Regions from separate parts of the Homo sapiens genome. Here region 1 is linked to region 2. The links come from fine-mapping of genetic effects on gene expression. Tissue or cell type: lung. Region 2 holds a variant in brackets; the other region holds the start of a gene. All regions are shown on one strand. Distances are between the middles of the regions. Region 1 holds the start of TYW3 (tRNA-yW synthesizing protein 3 homolog). Region 2 overlaps TYW3 (tRNA-yW synthesizing protein 3 homolog).

The links. PIP is the estimated chance that this variant, and not a neighbour inherited with it, causes the effect.
Region 1: TYW3 starts here. The variant in region 2 is fine-mapped to the expression of TYW3 in lung (TOPMed, PIP above 0.99). The same link has a PIP of 0.9 or more in whole blood.

What each region holds. Positions count from the first base shown.
Region 1 is chr1:74,729,244-74,737,243 of GRCh38, reverse strand. TYW3 (tRNA-yW synthesizing protein 3 homolog) reads right to left here and starts at 4,092. Exons shown (of 6, transcript NM_138467.3): 1 at 3,826-4,092; 2 at 622-702. The coding sequence starts at 3,999. It overlaps CRYZ (crystallin zeta), which reads left to right and starts at 4,194. Exons shown (of 9, transcript NM_001889.4): 1 at 4,194-4,288. RefSeq lists enhancers at 3,478-3,577, 3,958-4,247, 3,802-4,512, 5,108-5,397.
Region 2 is chr1:74,755,654-74,763,653 of GRCh38, reverse strand. The region is part of intron 5 of TYW3 (tRNA-yW synthesizing protein 3 homolog); the gene reads right to left. Among named protein-coding and RNA genes, the nearest start is that of TYW3, 27 kb to the right of the region's middle. The variant TG/G (reference allele first, on the strand shown) is at 3,955.

The sequences.
Region 1 (8,000 bases), 26 kb after region 2:
ACTCTGAAGACAAGATTTGAACATCTGAACCAGCAATACTTGATTCTAGCTCCATTCGCCCTTTCCAGTTAAATAAATTATCTTTTTTGCTAAAAACAGAATTGGATTTGTAAATTCACTGGGAATGAAAAGTGCCTGGCTGATAAAAACTTATGAATTCATCTAAACTCTTTACCTTAGGAAACTAAATAACCCAGCAGAGATATGAAGATTTTCAAAAAGCAATGCAGGTAAGTAATGTATTATTTATTTATATCAGTAAAGCTGGTAACACAGAGATAGTGCTAATCCCCTTCTCTTTCCATAATTTGTTCTAGGTTACAGGGTTTTCAAATAGCAGAATTAAAATTCAAAATTTGGATCCAATAGGTGTCCAATATCCATGAACTTTCTGCTGTGTCCAAGAGGATGTGTTTTGTTGAGTAGCAGTAAGTAATGCTTCCATACTTTTTATCTCCTACAACCCAAAAAGAGCCATTGTAATGAAAGCTCTCTAGGTTTTATAATCTTCAGCCATTATAACTCTGCATATAAATTACCTTGAATTTTCTATTCTTGTCATATGTATTTAAAGTAACTGAATTTAAAAGTTTATTTCCAAATTTATTTTTTAAAACTTACCACATCATCTTTTACACAAAGTTTGTGTGTAACCAGTAGCCAGCAACAGTTTTGTTTCTGAACCTCAAAACCATTTATACCCTAAAATAAAAAATAACATAATTTAAGTTTCATATAATATTTTACAAAAATAATAAGCATAATGCATAGTATATTGTAGGCTTTCTTAAATTAATAATCCCAAGTCAGGATTTTAAGTATTAATAAAAACAATTCGGTATGTTTTTGGGTAATGTTAACCCAGAATAAGAATGAGCCCAAATAACTTGAGGTAGAAAATTATGTGAAAGGTAAAACTACTTGATAAACATCTTCTGAAATATGGTCATGATTTTGCAAGAAAAAAAGGGATTAGTATAAGGGATAATACTAGCAGCACCTGAGTTGTACTCTAGCTATTTGGCTAGCACAGTATTTAAAAATGAAAAAAAAATAATTTTAATTTCTTTTGTAGGACAGCACTGTCCCAATTCCACACAAGACCTACTACCCTTTATTGTCACCTATGCCGTTTACACATTTATAATACTTCCTTGGTCTCTAGAGGCATAAATTTGTGACCTCTGAATTAGACTTTAGATGTAGTCCTGAAGGATGGAGCTAAGACTGAAAGGTCAAAGTTTCATGAAGGCAAACATTTTAATATTAACTTAAATTGAACAAATGTTTATTTGCAAAGTTCTATTAGGTACTTTGGGTATACACAGAACCTACCCCTCAAGGACACTGGAAAGGGGATGCAGGAAACCACATGAACAGAAATCACTATACTCAAAGTAACTATAATTTATACGATGGATCCACAAGAGACTCTGCTGTCTGCCCTTGGAACCGGGAATTGCTATGCATGTCCTAAATAAATATTTTGACTTCATTGTATGACTTCGGTGATGGTGACTTACGTATCTGACATTGTGCTGGCTACTCTGAATCTTAGAGCCAAATGTATGGCCCACTTCTAGCAACTTTACAGGATCTAGTGGTGGGATTGGCAACTAATGCCATCGCTGGCTTCATCTTATCTATATTTTCTTTATCCAGATTTTCCCACTTTTTATTTTTTCTTGTGTTGCCTGTTTGTAAGTTGCCCCAAATCCTTACTGAAATAAGGCAGATTTTAAAATAAACCATAATACGAGGTGTAAGATAAGAAATAAAAGTCTAACCAGTACAGAAGCAGTCATTACTTCCAAGTAGGTAGTATGTGTTTGTGGGTTCAGGTGGGAGAGGGGAGTTTTGGGAATCATGTCTCAGATATGCAGAGATAGGAAAACATTTCAGGAAAAAAACCGCCAAAAAACATGAGCAAAAGCAAGTAAATACAAGATGAAAAGAACAGTTTAGTTTCAGTAACTAGCTAAAGATGAAGAAAAGCAATGAAAAAAAGGTTGAAAGGTATACTAGAGTAAGCATTTGGATTTTCTGATGTAGAAAAATGTGTAATAAAACATAGCATAGGTGAGAGATAAGCAGAGTTGCAATTTGTCAAACATGGTTTGGAGAAGAATAGTTAAGTGGCTTGTTAGAGAACCATTGCAAAAATCAAGGCGAGACAGAGTTATGGAAATGGGGCAAGAGAGAGTTTGTGGGCAAGAATGCCATTGCTCTGAAGGTGATGGAAGTGATTTAAAAATGAACAGGCCCTGCTAACTTGAGAGATCAGCAAATAAATGATCAGTCAATAATGGACCTAAAGAATGAGCCTAACAATGTGCTGTCTTCCATGCTCTTAAGCCAATACTACGAATAAAATCAGTACACAGCCAACTTTTACAGTGCATGGGCCAGGCACAAAGCCAAATATTTCAAAAAAAATTATCCTATTTTCTCCACACAAAATCCCTATAAAGCAGATACTTTTTATTATCCTCAGTTCATAGAACAGGAAGGGGCAGAGTTGAGATAGCTTTCCTAAGGTCACATAGCCCGTGGTTTTTAATCTAAGCAGTATCACTCCCAAGCAGCCTTATCCTCAGGGGATATGTCCCAAGACCCCCTAGTGGATGCCTGAAACCTCAGATCAATTTCTTTTTCCTTCTTCACTTCACAATTTCACTGACAAGATTCATTCTTTCCGTAGATCTTAGCAACCTCAGCATATGCTGTTTTTTCTTTCCTTAAGTCTTTCCTTAAGAACTTTCACCTTTTCACTTCAAAAAAGCACTTTAAAACTTACTGTTGGCAGATCCAAATCGCCAGCATCATTACTCCCGTACTTTGGGGCCATTATTAAGTAAAATAAGAGTTACTTGAACACAAGCACTGTGATACCACCACAGTCGATCTGATAACCCAGAAGGCTACCAAGCAGCTAAAGGGCAGCAAGAATATATAGTGGAATATTCTGGACAAAGGGATGATTCACCTTCCATTCTGGAAGGAGCTGGTTGGCTCAAGATTTTATCACGCTACTCAGAACAGCATGCAATTTAAAACTTACTAATTGTTTATTTCTGGAATTTTCATTTAATATTTTCAGACTGCTGTTGACTGGGGTAACTGAACCTGCAAATAAGGAGGTATGGCTTGTACAGCTGCTTCTTGATTTATGATGGGGTTACATCCCAATAAATCCGTCATAAGTGGAAAATGTAAGTCAAAATGCATTTACTACCCCTGTAAACCCATCATAAAGTTAAAAAAAAAAGTCTAACCATCCTAAATTATATACGATCGTACTTTTCTCTGCGTAAAACTACTAGAGTTGTAATAATGGAGGGGCTCACTAGGAGGCAGTAAACTCCTTAACACTGGTGATGTTCAAGCATGCAGTAACAATGATTTGCCAGAGCTGTTGATGAGCGGATTCCGGCATTCAATACCTTAGCAAGCTACAAAGTCTTTAGATTCCCTTAGTATTCATATAATAAAATCAAATTTTCTAAACTTTGCCACACAAGATAGTTCCCAGGTCAGCAGTTTCAACATCATTTGGGCACTTGTTAGAAATGCACAGTATCAGGCCCTACCCTACACTTAAAGAATCGGGATCTGTATTTTAAAAGATGCTCAGCTGATTAATAGCCACGTTAAACTTTTAGAAGCACTGATCTAATCCCCTAAATTTCACATATAAAGAAACAGAGACCACCCCTCAGAGGAGCAAACACAGACATGCTGGATCCGGTCGTCACTGGATGGGAACAGGGCTCCTGAAGTTTCGCACTAGAAGGCAGGCGATGGACAGGCGCAAAGGGGCCTCACCCGGTCAAGGAGTAGGATGCGGCCAGCGCAGGAGCTGGTGGTGAAAAACTGATCTCGCATGTTCAGAAACTGCACAAGCTCTACCACATCCTCGTCAACACTGCCCTTCCGGCTGAGGTCCGCTTTGCTCAAACATTGCGCCTTCCATTTCCTGAACTCCGCGCTGCGATCCATGGGTGACGGACTCAGGGTCTGCGCTCGGCTCCTTCATGGTAGCCTCGTCTCTCCCTGGGGGCAGCCATATTGAAGCGAGCGGTGGCCGAAAAGGTCCAAACTTCCTCTTCGTTCTTAATTTGGGAAATTCTAGTGCCTTCGCCTAGGGGTGGAGAGAGGCGCACATCCTGGGTGGAGCGAGGCGCACATCCTGGGTGGAGCCTGCAAAAGTTGGAGAAGGTGTGGCAGTCCTCATTTCTGTGGAATCTGAAGAAGCCCACGCAGATTTTAATTCCCACTCTAGATTCTGGTAAGTGGTTTTAAAAACTCTCCTTAGTTGTTTAGACAGCGAATCTCCCCACTGCTCGTCCAAGTGGAACCGAGTTTGATTTTGGCTGCACCCCTTTCCTGCCCTCTGTCCTCCCAGAGAACTAGTGCGTAGAGCTCCAGACCGAAGCCATTCCCCTCCAGGGGCTGCAAGTTCCCATCCATAAATCAGGTAGGAAGTTTTGCCTTCTGGTCCTGGGCTCCTAGCCCTGGTCCTGCGTTTAGGCTCTGAGTTTAGGCTACCACACCATGAGGTGTCCGTTGGCACTACCCCTGCCCAGCCTCCGCCCCCCGCACTCCCTGTCCCCCAGCCCCACGCTGCACCCCCCCCCCCCCCCCCCGCCAGTCACCCGCTTGATTTTTCCCTGCAGCCAGTGCCTGGGTTTGGGGATTCCTGCAGCAGCGCCCAGCGGTCTGTCCAGGGCCCCTTCCCACAGCCCAGCTCTCAGCTGTAGAGGATTTGTCCTAGGTAGGGCCCCTTCCCACAGCCCAGCTGTAGGGGATTTCTTCTCCTAGGTAGGGCCCCTTCGCACAGCCCAGCTGTAGGGATTTGATTTCTTCTCCTAGGTAGGGCCCCTTCCCACAGCCCACCTGTCAGCTGTAGGGGATTTCTCCTAGGTAGGGCTCCTTCCCACAGCCCAGCTGTGGGGGATTTCTTCTCCTAGGTAGTGCCCCTTCGCACAGCCCAGCTGTAGGGGATTTGATTTCTTCTCCTAGGTAGGGCCCCTTCCCACAGCCCACCTGTCAGCTGTAGGGGATTTCTCCTAGGTAGGGCTCCTTCCCACAGCCCAGCTGTAGGGGATTTCTTCTCCTAGGTAGTGCCCCTTCGCACAGCCCAGCTGTAGGGGATTTGATTTCTTCTCCTAGGTAGGGCCCCTTCCCACAGCCCAGCTGTGGGGGATTTTTTGTCTTGGATTCCCACAATTACAGGTTTCCCGGAGCTTCCTCCAGCTTTGCCATCAGGATTGCAGTCTTTGAGAGAAATGTATAGTTTTATTGACCCTGTGACGCCCACCACCTAGAATAATCTTCAAAAGAAAATTACAAAACACCCTGTTAACACATCGTTGGATGTTTATACTGAGTTTCTAGAGGAGACTCAGTGACCAGGGAAGGTGTGTCAATGATTAAACCTAAAGGCTAAAGTTTGGAATGCTTGTCCGTAGCTAATGGAAATTGTTGTGCGAGTCCCTCTGAAGCCACTGTGATTACGTGTCTGGTTAGCGCAGCGAGTTCAGCAGCAAATCTCTCCAAGCTCTACTCCTCCAGCATTAGGGAACAGACTGCCCTGTTCCATACGATCATGGAACCTGGAGGAGTCCGAAATTATTAAACTCCTCCCCTCTTCTTACCCCGTCCTATCTCAAGTGAACAGAAGTGACCTGATAAGATCACACAGCCAGGAAGAGACTTTCTCTGACCACTTGTAATTCTTGCCTTTTTTACATTTCTGGGTTAATAATAAACCATATGCTTACATGAGTCATTGTGTATTAGCAGCAGAACAATTTGTAATGATTGATTTTTTTTCTAAGTTTTCAGTTTTTAAAATTCTTGCCAGAATTCTTATTTAATTTTACTTTTGCTCTTGTCTCATAATGTTCCTTTGCTCTGGCTTTGTGACTTGATCTGTTCATCCTATGTTAAAATATACTCCTAACATTTTCCCAATTCCTTTAATTTTCGTTTAAATCAAATGGATACAAGCATAGCCAGGAAAAAGATCACTGTTGGAAGAGGGATTTTAGATTTTCTATTTCCTAGATTTGTAAGGCATATTGGCAACCTTTCAGAGGTAAAATTAAACCAAAAATTAAACCAAGGGACTCTTAATTTTTAAAAGTTTATATTTGATAAACAGGAAGGCCTATTTGAAGTATAGTTTAATTAAAAAGCACAAGCAATGGAAAGGCCTGTCCTGTTCACAAGGATCCGATGCTAGGGAGTAATTTTTTTTTATACATTTTTAAAAATAGAATCATGTCCTTTGTATTTCTGCTGCATTCCCTGACTTAGTGGGCATTTGAGAAATTTCAAACTCTAAGCAGATGCCTTAGTCATAAAATATGCGATTCTACCTGCAGGTTAGTTTGATTTCACATTTTCTAGCTCAATCTGTCTCACTATCACTATTGTAAAGTTTATTTCTACGAAGTAAAGGGTCTTATATGCCAGCATCTCAAAGGGTGAGATGAAAAGGATGGTAAAGAAAAAAATCAGCTAACACCATTTAATTACAGGACTTGGGTTCTAGCTTTGCTTCTGTGTGACCCTGACCAAGTCTCTTAACCTCTTGTGATGTTTTCTCATCCATAAAATGGATGGCGATTTTATTTTTACTTCTGCATAAAATAATAGTTTAAATAACTTCTCTACCTGTTCTGAAAACAGTTAAGTCAATGGAGGTGGAAGACTTATGCTTTTTAGAAGAAATCCGGTATTACAGGATTTTAAGTATTATCCTATTTGCCATCAGTATGCCACGTTATTTTATTCTTTGTGTAATCTCCTTTGACAGGCTTCATCGTTATGAAGCATATGATGATCCCGTGGATAGGTGAGTTCAAAGGCAATGAGTGCAGGTTGGAGCCTGATGAATCAGAATGCTAAAGGCTCAGTGGGAGATAAGATCAACAGAAGCAAAGTAGGAGATAGTGTGGTCAGGCCATGCCCCATCACTTTCAAGCCTGATAGGATAATGTAGTCAGATAGTACTGGGCAAAGCAGATGAGTCTTCCAAATCCAGTAGGATGAGTCATCTTCCTTTATTCCTTTCTCCCAACTTAGCCAATGCCAAAATGTGGGGGGGGAAAGATACAGATCCTATTTCAGAGTAATTTTACTTTTATTATTACAACAGTTTTTTTATGGTAATCATGAGATGTGAGTGAAAGAAATATGTAGGAAGTAGGTAGATATCGAAAATGGAAAAAGCAAGCATCTCATAGGCTATGTGTGTAGGTGTGAGAGAGAGAGAGAGAGCACCCAGCTTACAGAAGCTAGGGGCAGGGTGGGGCATTTTCTTCTTGCTCTTTGTGTTCTCTGAGTTTAACACACCACTTCATGTACAGTTAAGGTTCAGAAAAATACGCATTGCATAACAACCAATATTTAGTATTAATGTTTTGTTTAAGTCATCTTCTAGACCGAATTCTTTGAGAATAAGAGCTTGTTTTGATAACCAGAGTTCTGTAAATATCGTTATATTAAAGATGATTATAGAACTATAGAGTATATTTTTTTCATAACATTTTAATGACTTCTCTAGTCTGCTGCTTTTTTTTTTTTTTTTGAGACAGGGTCTCACTCTGTCACCCAGGCTGGAGTGGTGCAGTGGCAGGATCATGGCTCACTGCATCCTGATCTCCTGGGCTCAAGCAATCCTCCCACCTCAGCCTTCTGAGTAGCTGGGACCACTGGTGCTTGCCACCACACCTAGATAATTTTTTTTTTTTTTTTTGTAGAGATGGCATTTCGCCATGTTGCCAAGGCTGGCCTTGATCTCCTAGGCTCAGGCAATCCTTATGATTCAGAAATTGAAAAGAAGAATAGAGGGGAAAACAATAATGATGTCTACTATATACAAGATCATGTGTTTGCTAAGTTCTGTGCTTGGTGCTTGCCACGTCTCTAGCACGTAACTCTGAGTGGGATCCCAGATTTCAGATGAGGAAACAGCATCAAGAGGTTGACTG
Region 2 (8,000 bases):
CAAATGTAGGGGTCAAAGAAGAGGGTAAAAAAGAATGCAATTATTATTACATAAATGTAATGGCTCATTTTAGGTAATTTGTATAATGTGTGAGGTTACAAATACAGATCACCTCTACATAACTAGAAATAACTCCTCTCAATATTTTTCTTTTCAGTTTATTAATGTAGTCTGAATTAATGTATTTATTAATTAATCCATATACCTATTTGTCACAATTAGAATATTACATATAAAGTTTTACATTGTTTTTTCAAAGTTATTATTTATTGAGAGTGGCAGTACAACATTATGTCATCTAGATTGGCCTTTATTTACATTCAAATTTTCCCTGATACAAACAAAAATGTGGTAAGCATTTTTGAAAATGATGTGATGTGAGTTTTTAGCCATTTCTTTATATAGACACCTAGAAATATCATTACATCGTTAAAAGGCATAAACATTACAAGGCTCTTGATAAATACTGCTTGTTTTCACAATAGATATTCAAAGAAATACGCTTCTAATAGCTGCACTTGAGAGAGATCACTACACCTATACACTGAATATTCCCATCAAAAAACACATTCTACCTGGATGGGTGAAAATGATATCGCATTATTTTAACTTTCATTTCTTTGTAAGTAAAATACAATGTTTCTCATTTATTAGCTATTTGAATTTTTTAGTGTAAATTATTGTTTCCCTTTATTCATTTTTCTATTGGAGTTTTAGTGTTAGTTTTGTGATACAATAAACTGTAGGCTCTCTGAAAACCAGGCCTCATTTCTTTTCTACCCTCATGTTAACACCTAACACAAAACTCTGCTTGACACAGTAGCCTGCAGCAGGCAGCATAGCATGGTGTGTTGCATGCATTTGACACCAACATTCTTTTAGGAAAGGTGATGTCAGCTAATTCCAATTAATTTCCCACAGTCTTGATTTTTCACATTTATAAAGCTGGATATTATTATCCTGTAGCTATCAGGGTTGTCACAGGATTACAGATGATATATGTAAGTACCCAGAGAGTTAGTTATCAAAAATGACTACTTTTATGGAATATAGACTTCATGAGAGCAAGGATCCTATCTACCTGTCTCCTGTTATATTCTGAGCATGTAGTAGAGTGCTGGCATACTCAGTAAGACTATATTGAATAAATGAATGAATAACCCCAGAATAAAAATGTAACTATAAATGTGTTATCCTAGGTCTCAAATCAGAATGATCTGAAAGTTAGGAAACCCCCCTGCCACTGCAGAGATCTCATCTTACTTTTATGTCCTATTATAATGGGAGACTATGGCAAGAAATTTTTGATATCTACAGAATAGATCTCTATTTGGACCAATTTTCATCTTTGTTTGATTCAATAAACAGGCTAAGTTCTACTTACGAAGCCTATAAAACTCCAAAACTCCAAATATCCACATATTCCTAAATATGTCACCTAACTCTAATACATATACAACATGATGAGTACACATCCTGTCCATTTTCAAGAACTTATGCACTCATCACTGTACACCTTGATATCTAGTGCTGTGCTTGGCAAACAACAGATGCTCAATAAATATTTTTATCAATGAATGAATTAATCTCAAAAACAGACACAGAGTTAAATTTAAAAAGACTGAGATGCGTGACATACATAACTTTTTGGGCCTTGTTCCATGGTAACATCCTTTCACTTAATGCACCCTTTACATCCTTCCGTTACTGAAACCTGGCTCCCCTGTAGACACCATCTTCCATCATTCCTCCCAAGCGGAGACTGCTTATGTTTTCCATATCCTGCTACCACAGAGCTGAGAGATGAGGTCAGAATAAAACCGGCTCATCAACATTTTCCCAAATTCCTCCATCTGCCCCTCATGTCATCTACCAATAATGTTTGGTTCCTTACATTGATGAAAACTTCTATGCTTGACTTGATCTTTCTTTCTAGGTCTTGTCACCATCTTAGGTGATGTCAATGACTGGTATCCTTCTCATGTTCCACACAGCCTGTTCAGAATGACTTACATTAACGTTATCTAAAACATAAATCTGAGCATGCCACAAGATGGTGTGGCTCATCCTGATCATAAGACGCCATCCCTGTTATACAACCTCATCTTCTACCATTCTTTATCAACCCTGCACTTTAGGCTTAGGTAACTGAGTGTTTTTTTCTGGATTATACTTTCTTCCTAGAAAATGAAAGATAAGATTAAATTGCTCCTTTATGATCACCGAGAATTAACAGCTTGTGAAAAATGCCTCATCCATCACATTAAAAAAAAGTAATTAAAAAGGAATGTATGCCTTACTTTAATCAACCATTAAAGAACCTAAGAATTCAAAGCTATGTCCTTAGGGTACCAAAACAACTGGTAAAATGGAACAAAGATCCTTTCCTGAATAAAAACTTCAAATACTAGTTTTCCTTTCCCTTTTCTAAGAGAACTTTAAAAGTCCTTTGAGAAACAGTACTCAGTAAGTCAAAAGTTATGTTCTCCCCTTATACAGTAACACTTAAGCCTGATTTTCAAAAGTGCAATTTTCTGAACTCTCACAGGCAACAAAATGAGCTCTGAGATTTAAGGAAAAAAAAAAAAAAGTATGTTCAGGCAACTGTATTTTTTCTCTCCTTGAAAGAAAAGCAAATAGCCTTCAGTTTTTCTGCCTCTGCAGTCAAGATTATCATAGCATAGGACAACTTGTACTTAGTTCTCTTCATAAGTTTTCAGGCCAAGCCTGAGAAAATGAATTCTTGTTTTTCAACGTCAGTTAGAAAACCACTTTCAACAGAAAGCTGGAATTTCTCTAACTTCTCAAACAAAAACACAGAATTGAGGAAACTGAGGCACAATTTTATTTCCTTTAGGCTTCCATCATTCACAAATATCAAAGAAGGCTATTCTAATATGTATTTAGATTTTAACTAGCATTTTCTTTAAAAAACAACATGTATGTGACAGGCCAAGTGCCCAGTACTAGAAGCCCAGAGAAGTGGTCTGTGGTCTGTGCCCTCAAGGAGCTCATGGTTTAACAGGAGCTACAGAACTGTAAAGCCACATTTAACACACCATGAAAAAGATGGGACACAGTGCTCTAACTGAAATCACAAAATGCTCTCCGTTATAAGATCCAATGCCTGGGCTGAACTGCAAGGATGAATGGAAGCTGACAATGTGCTAAGAGAGGAATTAGGAGGAAAAAAGATGGGGGCATGGGGGATGTCCCAGGAAACACTACTAGAAAATAAAATATATGTTTTCGCTTTATATTATTTACTTATTTGGTCTTAAGTATACAGTTGACCCTTGAACAATATGGTTTTGAACTACACAGGTCCACTTACATGCAGATTTTTTTTGAATAAAAGCTACACCAAATATTCCTGCTTCTCCTTCTACCTTCTCTACCTCTTCTGCCTCTGCCACCCCTGAGATAGCAGGACCAACCACTCCTCTTCCTCAGCCTACTCAAGGTGAAGACGATGAAGACAAAGGCTTTTGTGATGATCCATTTCCACTTAATGAATAATAAATATATTTTCTCTTCCTTATGATTTTCTTAATAACATTTTTCTCTAGCTTACTTTATTGTAAGAATACAGTACACAATATATATAACATACAATACATGTGCTAATCAACTGCTTATGTTATGAATAATGCTTCCAGTCAAAGGTAGGATATCAGTACCTAAGTTTCTTGGGAGTCAAGTCATATGTCAGCCAGGTGCGGTGGCTTATGCATGTAATCCCAACACTTTGGGAGGCCAAGGCGGGCAATCACTTGAGTCCAGGAGTTTGAGACCAGCCTAGGCAACATGGCAAAACCCCATCTCTACAAAAAAATACAAAAAATTATCTGGGCTTGGTGGTACATGCCTGTAGTAACAGCTACTCGGGAAGCTGAGGTGGAGGATCACTTGAGCCTGGAAGGCGAAGGTTGCAGTGAGCCAAGATCATGCCAC[TG/G]TACTCCAGCCTGGGTGACAGTGAGATCCTGTCTCAAAAACAACAACAACAAAAGCCATGTGGATTTTCAACTACATAGGGGGGTGGTAACCCTAACTCCATGTTGTTCAAGGGTCAACTATACAGGGAAATGTGTGTTATTTATTTAGCTGTTTTAGACCCATTTTTAGAAATGGTAAGACTTGACCATGTGCAGTGGCTCATGCTTATAATCCCAAAACTTTGGGAGGCTAAGGTGTGACAATCACTTCTGGCCAGGCCAGGAGTTTGAAACCAACCTGGGCAACATAGAAAGACCTCATCTCTACCAAAAAAAAAAAAAAAGAAAAGAAAAGAAAGAAAGAAAAATGATAAAGACTAGCAACTATGAGGAATCTAAGACAGCTCTTATTCTTTAGTCCTCCTTCTCTGTGTTACCCCTATTTCCAACCTGCTGCCATGTCTGATGGATATTCTGCAGTCTCATTCTCATTCATCTTGTTACTCAGGGACCTATTACTTCTTCCTTAGGCTATAGAAAGAGCCTACTTGTACTCACCCCATCTCTAAACCATCTGACAGGTCTTCCAGAATAAGCATCCTAATGCTTTGAAGCCTTAAAAAAAGTAGCACTATTTATGAAAAAGTCTAGTCAACTAAATTTGTGAACATTTATTAACCACTATTCTCATTCCAGACACTCAGAATATAATGAACAAGAAACTGTTTTTGCCTTTGGAGAACTCAATATAATGTGTTAACTTTCAAGCTCCTTTATCTTTTATCATTAATTCAATAAACATTTCTTGGGCTTCTACTGTGAGCCAGATACATGTTACATTGTAGGATAAGATATCTCAAGTGTGTTTGTGTATGTGTGTAAGGTTGGGGGCTGGTGGGGGGAGTCCTATCTTCAACGTGACCATGTTGCAGTGGAAAAAAAAGATGTGCAATTAAGTAATTGTAATTCAATGTAATAGAAATACCTGTTTTGCACTGGTAAATGATGATAAGAATCAGAACCATGAAAATGGCTGGTAAATGACGATAAGAATCAGAACCATGAAAATGGCTGGTAAATGACGATAAGAATCAGAACCATGAAAATGGCTGGTAAATGACGATAAGAATCAGAACCATGAAAATGGCTGGTAAATGACGATAAGAATCAGAACCATGAAAATGGCTGGTAAATGACGATAAGAATCAGAACCATGAAAATGGCTGGTAAATGACGATAAGAATCAGAACCATGAAAATGGCTGGTAAATGATGATAAGAATCAGAACCATGAAAATGGCTGGTAAATGATGATAAGAATTGGAACCAAGAAAACGGCTGGGGGATTTAGAATAAGGTAAGAAACATATTAAGGAAAAGCTGGTGAGAGATTTTAATTAGATATGTTCAAATGGTTATTGGATATGTTGGCCCAAGACTCTAGAAAGATTTAGAAGACCTGCCAGTACATGGAAAAGTAGCAGAACTAGTTGAAGCCATGGGCCAAGGACAGAAGCTTGGAGAACAGTATTTAATGAAGAGGAAGAAGAGAAACCTACAATGAAACTAAGAAGAAACATCACAAGCAGGAAGAAAAGCAGCAAAGTGATACAACAGAAATTCTTACTCTCTCATCTTCTAGGTAAACCGAACCATTCACTGATCCCTATTTATGGCTTACATATTGCCATCTGTATTAGTCCATTTTCGTGCTGCTGATAAAGACATACCTGAGACTGGGCAATTTACAAAAGAAAGAGATTTAATGGACTTATGGTTCCATGTGGCTGGGGAGGCCTCATGGTCATGGTGGAAGGTCTCACATGGCAGCAGACAAGAAAAGTGAGCTTGTGCAGGAAGACTCCCGTTTTTAAAACCATCAGATCTCATGAGACTTACAATCATGAGAACACCACAGGAAAGACCTTGTCCCCAGGATTCAATTACCTCCCACCAGGTTGCCCCACTGGCCCCTCCCAAATCTCATGTCCTCACATTTCAAAACCAATCATCCCTTTCCAACAGTCCCCCAAAGTCTTAACTCATTTCAGCATGAACTCAAAAGTCCATAGTCCAAAGTCTCATCTGAGACAAGGCAAGTCCCTTCTGCCTATCAGCCTGTAAAATCAAAAGCAAGTTAGTTATTTCCTAGATACAATGGTGGTGTGGGCATTGGGTAAATATAGCCATTTCAAATAGGATAAATTGGCCAAAATAAAAGGGCTACAGGCCCCATGGAAGTCTAAAATCCAGCAGGGCAGTCAAACATTAAAGCTCCAAAATGATCTCCTTTGACTCCATGTCTCACATCCAGATCATGCTGATGCAAGAGGTGGGTTCCCATAGTCTTGGGCAGCTCTGCCTCTGTGGCTTTGCAGGATACAGCTTCCCTTCTGGCTACCTTCACAAGCTGGCACTGAGTGTCTGTGGCTTTTCCAGGTACACAGTACAAGCTGTCGGTGGATCTATCATTCTGGGGTCTGGAGGATGGTAGCCCGCTTCTCACAGCTCCACTAGGCATTGCCCGAGTAGGGACTCTGTGTGGGGGCTCTGACCCCACACTTCCCTTTGGCACTGCCCTAGCAGAGGTTCTCCATGAGGGCCCCGCCTCTGCACTAAACTTCCATCTGGGCATCCAGGTGTTGCCATATATCTTCTGAAATCTAGATGGAGGTCCCCAGATGCCAATTCTTGACTTTTGTCCACTCGTAGGCTCAACACCACATGGAAGCTGCCAAGGTTTGGGGCTTGCACCCTCTGAAGCCACAGCCCCAAGCTCTACATTGGTCCCTTTCAGCCATGGCTTGAGTGGCTGGGACACAGGGCACCAAGTTCCTAGGCTGCACACAGCACAGGGACCTTGGGCCCAGCCCACAAAACCACTTTTTCCTCCTAGGCCTCTGGGCCTGTGATGGGAGGGACTGCTGTGAAGACCGCTGACATGCCCTAGAGACATTTTCCCCATTGCCTTGGGGATTAACATTCAGCTCCTCATTACTTATGCAAATTTCTAGGGCTGACTTGAATTTCTCCTCAGAAAATGGAATTTTCTTTTCTATCACATTGTCATGCTGCAAGTTTTCAAAACTTTTATGCTCTGCTTCCCTTATAAAACTGAATGTGTTTAACAGCACCCAAGTCACCTCTTGAATGCTTTGCTGCTTAGAAATTCTGCCGGATACCCTAAATCATCTCTCTCAACATCAAAGTTCCACAAGTCTCGAGGGCAGGGGTAAAATGCTGCCAGTCTCTTTGCTAAAACATAACAAGAGTCACCTTTGCTCCAGTTCCCAACAAGTTCCTCATCTCCATCTGAGACTACATCAGCCTGGATTTCCTTGTCCATATCATTATCAGCATTTTGGTCAAAGCCATTAGACAAGTCTCTAGGAAGTTCCAAACTTTCCCACATTTTCCTGTCTTCTTCTGAATCCTCCAAACTGTTCCAACCTCTACCTGTTACCCAGTTCCAAAGTCGCTTCCACATTTTTGGGTATCTTTTCCGCAGTGCCCCACTATAGTGGTACCAATTTACTGTATTAGTCCATTTTCACACTGCTGATAAAGACATACCCGAGACCGGGCAATTTACAAAAGAAAGAGATTTAATGAACTTACAGTTCCATGTGGCTGGGAAGGCCTCACAATCATGGTGGAAGGTGAAAGGCATGTCTCACATGGCAGCAGGCAAGTGAAGAGAACTTGTGCAGGGCGACTCCCGTTTTTAAAACCGTCAGATCTTGTGAGACTTATGCACCATCACAAGAACAGCACAGGAAAGACCTGCCCCCATAATTCAATTACCTCCCTCCAGCTCCCTCTCACAACACATGGAAATTCAAGATGAGATTTGGGTGAGGACAAAGCCAAACCATATCACTATCTCTTTTTCCTTTGTTCATGCTCTTCTTTTTTATCTATCATGCTATTTCCCCCTCCCACAGAGCTCTTCATATAAAAACCCTGCCTGCATTTTAGGCCCTGCTCAGTGACTTCTTCCAATATGCTTTCTTTGATTACACTATACCACTTCTGAGTATATATCCAACAGAACTGAAAGCAGTGA